Regions from separate parts of the Homo sapiens genome. Here region 2 is linked to region 1. Evidence: fine-mapped expression QTL. Tissue or cell type: whole blood. Region 1 holds a variant in brackets; the other region holds the start of a gene. All regions are shown on one strand. Distances are between the middles of the regions.

Region 1 (2,764 bases):
CCATGAAACCTCCCTATTACCTACAAAAATGCTCATTTAAAAGCTATTTGTAAGGACAATAACTCACATGTTCAACAATAATCAGTTTAAATTGTTGTGTCCATTTAAAATACTGAGTATTTTATTTAGTGGTTATAACAATGTTGATGTTCTATTAAATAATGTAGGCTAAAAGGCTTACGCCGTATGAATGCTCTTTGTAAATAATGCTTGTCTACAGAAATCTAGAAGAATATATCCAAATACATTCATGTTAGAGAAAAACATTTTAATATATTGAGTGGCAGGATTATTTCATGTTTTGCCATTTTCCCTTTTCTTTAACGAATATACAGAATTACTTTCACTATAACATTAATTGTTTTAGTTTCTGTATTTAATCAAAATTCTAATAGCTGTGGCTGAGGAAAAAGTCTTAATTTTTCTCCAGATGTTTTCCTACACCCAAAGCACTCCACCTAAATAATGAAAACAGCTATTTTCCTCTGGCCCAACAGGGAAAAGATTAAGTCTTGTCCTTCCGTCATGTGAGTTTGGGAGTAAAAAAGTAATCCTTACATATTACTATTTCTGGTAAGGATGTAGCGACTAGTCTAGCATTTAATTTTTTAAAAAAATTCTTCCCCTTTTGTCAAATAATTACTAAGACTCGTATAAAAGGAATGATTTTCTGAAGACATAACAACTTGAGTTACTCCTTCAAACTTTTTGAATTGTCATAATATATTAAACGAAATAAAATCTGCACTTACTTGCCTGGGTCGTCATTTGTCAGTCTACATCTTTCATTGCAAGCCTTGCCTTATACAGGTACCTAAATATATTCTACTTCCATCTTTTCAAGCTCGGTGCCTGCCTACCACAATAAAAAGTTACAGCTCAAACTAATTTAAGTTGTTAAGAGACAGTGTATTAACAATGATTGGCTACACTGGGTGGGTTGTCTCTGCTGTTCCTTTTCCCACAGCCCCTCAGTATTTATCCCAGGGAGAGAAATCACATTTTACCTATAGTAAGACTGTATTTCTCTCACTCTGTAATCCTCTCTCTGTCAGAAAAATGAGCAAAGGTAAAAGATGAGGCTGACCCTTTTGTTTTGATGCAAGAATGTTTTGAACATTGACTTAAAATCAGACAAAGTGAAGAGTGCTACGATTGTGGTTTCACTAGATATAAGGTTATCTTATTTAAGTAGCCTTTTTAATGAAATGATTAGAAATACAACTTTAAATGTTTAATTCTTTTTTCCTTCCTTTCTAGGATATAGCATTTCCAACACAAATGAGGATATTATGACATACTAAAGAATAGTTCTTTCCTCTCTTTGTAGTTATTTTAAATGTCAAAAATTCACACT[CTG/G]TATTAGCTTCGGAAAAGGGAAGTGTCATGCATCTTGAAAATTGGACGTAAACAAAGAGACTATTTTAAGTCACCAAAGAGTATCTTTGTATATACATAACACCAAATTTACCATTTTAATAATTTTTAAGAGTATGGTTCAGTAAAACATTAAGTACATTAACATATTTTGCAACCATAAACACCATCCATTTCCAGAGCTTTTTCATCTTCCCAAACTGAAATTCTGTACTCATTAAATAACTCCCTATATGCATCTTTTTAAGAACAGAGAAACTTGAATAAACCAAAAATTTTTAAAAACCTCCAGTCACCCCAAAGCTCCAACCATTTTTTTCCCAGAAGCCAGCACTCTTACCTTCTTGGAAGCCTCAGGATGCAGGATTTGCCTGACATGAAGCTGCCCATCAGTACAGAGACAGAAGGAAGTCCCTACTCCAATATTCAGTTCATTGCTCACTGACTGGTTAAACTGCAAGAACAAGATACACATAGGGATGCAACTGATGCACGATTTACAAACTCTGCAAAGTAGCTCCCCTTGGTGATAGCCAGAGAAAACCGCAATAAGGGCCCTGATGGGTGACACCGGTGCTGGGGCAACCTTGGACAGACTCCTTTCCCACGAACCGTCTAGCTTCCTCGAGGTAGGGAAGCTTTCCAATCAATCCGCAGTTCGCGCCCAGGAGAAACTTGTCAATGCATTCTCCCTTCTGTTTTTACAAAAAAAATTCATTCAAGACTTAAGTCAGATGTCTCATTTCATCAGCAGGTTGCCTGCAGATTACATCATTCCCTAGTGTTACTTTTTATATGTTTGGATGTGCCAGGCTTAAGAAAGATGCCAGCTTCTAATAAACAAATACGGGTATTGGGTATACAGATCTGGAAAGTCTTGGATGAATACACCCCAGGAAGGATAGCTTTCTCCTATAACTCGAAGCTCGTGTGCTAGGGCAGAGGTCGTGAGAACGCAGAGCATTCATCTGTGCACAGGTGTTTAGCGCCCCGCCCTACCCGATCCGGCACCCGTCAGCACCCCGGAACAGCCGGTTTTTAGGTCACCTCAGTCCTAATAAGGGGATTCCATCAGTTCCGCAGTGACACAACGGGCAGCCTTGCACGTTCGGACCTGAAAAACCTCCCTGGCAGTGGGACCAAGGCCACTAAAGAAATAATGACGGACCGAGCCTTTCGTTGGGAGTTCAGAAGCCTGAAACCAGGCAGGCACCTTCAGGTTCCAACCCACAGTGCTACTTCTTGCACACCCGCCGGGCCCACCTGCACGTCTACGCCACAGCGCCCCCTGCCCGAAGGCTGTGGGCCCAAACCCCGCAGGGGAGCGGCGCGTCTGGGGTCTGGACCTGGAGATGGGGGCGCTAGGATTCAAACTCCGCACGTCAAT
Region 2 (2,618 bases), 180 kb before region 1:
GGGTGGGGGGGGGGGGAGTTTGGGTTTTTTTTTTGCCACAAAAGGAATCCAAACAGCTGCGCTGTTAAAATGACTAAGGAATACGTATGTAAGAAGTGTGCCTGGGGGTTAAAGGAGATGCGGAAGAGTGGTAAGGAGGAAGGGTAACAGATTAGAGTGGAAGAAAGCAAAAAAAAGCACCTTACGGGGAAGAACATAACAGTCATAGATTTCTGGTTCTGCAAATAACCACTGCCAATTAGAAGAATGAGATATAAATATTAGAACTATTATTTTGACACTTAATTAGGGGGACCTCCATCAAGTGACCTCTCCGTACCTGCTTCTTCCAATGCAAAATAGAGGATCATTTTGAAGATTAAATTAAAGGAGGTAACGGATGTGAGCAATTAAGCACAGTGCATGGCACCCGGAAAGCACTCAACAAATTATCTTTCAAAAGGAATGAATTAAGGGCATTATACAGGTGCCAAAACTGCCTAAGTACACTAACTTCTTACACAGTGGTCTCTATCAGTGAAGGCCAGTCTGAGACTGAACAAGCCATATCTAGATTTGAATTTAGAGAAATGCTATCCGAGGAACTTACCTTTTTGTGCCAATACCTTTTTTGAGAATGCCTGGAGTTTTCCTCCTCCCCCATCAATCACACCCATTTAACTGGGCTATTAATCATTATCATCACTATACAAAGCCATCTTGCAAATGTGCAGCAGTTCCTACTTTCAAAGATTTTCTTTTAACTTACAGCCCAACTTTGGAATAAGAGTCAATAAAATTCCCTCACTGAAGAAAAAAATGTTTAAATAAAACCTAAGATAATAACTAGCGTCACGATCAACACCCAACAGCTGGTTTCTCCCCAGCTCCCTGAATTTATTCAGCTTGGGGTTGAAGGAGGCGTCTGGTCAGCCTCCCCGACCCAAGCAACCACAAGACCCGCCTCGCAGCCTCTAAAACCCCAACAGTAAAAAGGTAAATCGTAAAAAGGACCAAAGGGTTTAGGATGACAGCACCAAGCCCTCCCCTCCGGGGGTAGGAGAGCCTTTGTTTCGAGCTTTTCTTTGACCCTCCACCCGGGCATGTTTAAGGGAAGCGAGGAGCCCGGCCGGAGCTGGGCTCCTGTGCGCGCCTCCCAGGCCGCAGCTTCGGTGACCGAGAAGGCGGGGAGCGGAGGGAAGCTGGGCGGACAGCGCCGGTGGCCGGGTCCCGCTCCCCAGGTGCAGGCGCCGCGCTCACCCGGGCAGGGCTTGCGCAGATGTTTCTCCAACAGTGACTCCTCCAGCAGAAACTCAAACCAGCAGGTCTGCGGCGGGGTGCAGGGCCGGCTGGAGGTGGCCGCCTCCCGGTCCGCCGCCTCCGCGCTCATCCTGCCCCCGCCGCCGCTACCACCAGGGCCGCTTCCCGGCTCCAACCTGACACTTGGATGCGGGCCGGTGCCTGGGGTATGCGGAACCCGGTGGGAGAGAGGCCACCCTCCGAACGTCCCGGAAACTCACACAATCCAAAATGGCGGCGCGGGCCAGCCGGAGCTGCGGTCCTGGATCCGCCTCCCCGCGCCACCGCCGCGCCTTCGGACCAATCGTTGTTCGGGTTGGAAGGAAAGGGGCGTGACTAACCTTCGAACCACGCCTCCTCCCGGTTGCCATAGGAGACGGCGCCGCATGAAGCCGGGTCGCGGGTGGGTTTTCCGTGTTCCCTGACAGTTCTCCAGCGAGAAAATGAGACAACCTCATCTAGGGTTGCAACGGGCCTCAATATTTTCGTAAAGGCGAAGCGAAGGGTTCTAGTTGTGACCCAAGCAAAGTTTATCTCCTGTGCTTTCAATTTCCCCGTTCCCATTTCTGAGATTTCCTCGCACCTGGGTCCTCTCCTCAGATGCTCCCGCCGTCCTGCCGAGAACACCAGCTTCCCACTCGCTTCCTGGACGGATGGCAGCATACGGTGAGCAGCCCTTGCTGCTAGCTCCCGATACTTAGAGCCTAGTTGATCCTTTCGATATCCCCGCTAGAGGCGCTGTTAACCCTATACATTTACCTCCGTTCTGTGATGTTCTTGTATTTTTCATTAACGATTAAAACTGAAAAAAGATGCATTCATAGATCGTGAATACAAGGCCAGCCTGACCAATATGATGAAACCCCGTCTCTACTAAAAATACAAAAATTAGCCGGGCTTGGTGGCGGACGCCTGTAATCCCAGCTGCTCAGGAGGCTGTGGCAGGAGAATCGCTTGAACCCGCGAGGCGGAGGTTGCAGTGAACCGAGATCGCTCCATTGCACTCCAGCCTGGGCAACAGAGCGAAACTCTGTCTCAAAAAAAAATTTTTTTTAAGTAGCCGGGTATGGTGACACACACCTGTGGTCCCAGCTACTCAGGAAGCTGAGGCGGGAGGATCACCTAAGCCTAAGAGATTGAGGTTGCAGTGAGCTGTGATTGTGCCGCTACACTCCAGCCTGGGCAACAGAGTGAGACCCTGTCTCACAACGAGAAAAAAAAAAAGAAAGAAAAAAAAGGAAATCAGTACAGATTAACTTGACATTTTGACATTTGTATTACATATGTAAAAATAAGTTTTAATTAAGGAAGAGTTCATTATTCCACTACCATCTAATACA

Evidence for each region. PIP is the estimated chance that this variant, and not a neighbour inherited with it, causes the effect.
Region 2: it holds the start of INTS8, and the variant in region 1 is fine-mapped to the expression of INTS8 in whole blood (INTERVAL, PIP above 0.99).

The regions. Positions count from the first base shown.
Region 1 is chr8:94,642,370-94,645,133 of GRCh38, reverse strand. ESRP1 (epithelial splicing regulatory protein 1) reads right to left here. Exons shown (of 16, transcript NM_017697.4): 3 at 1,718-1,831. Among named protein-coding and RNA genes, the nearest start is that of ESRP1, 2.6 kb to the right of the region's middle. RefSeq lists an enhancer at 2,533-2,622. The variant CTG/G (reference allele first, on the strand shown) is at 1,358.
Region 2 is chr8:94,822,183-94,824,800 of GRCh38, reverse strand. INTS8 (integrator complex subunit 8) reads right to left here and starts at 1,514. Exons shown (of 27, transcript NM_017864.4): 1 at 1,240-1,514. The coding sequence starts at 1,369. RefSeq lists an enhancer at 868-927 and a silencer at 1,088-1,477.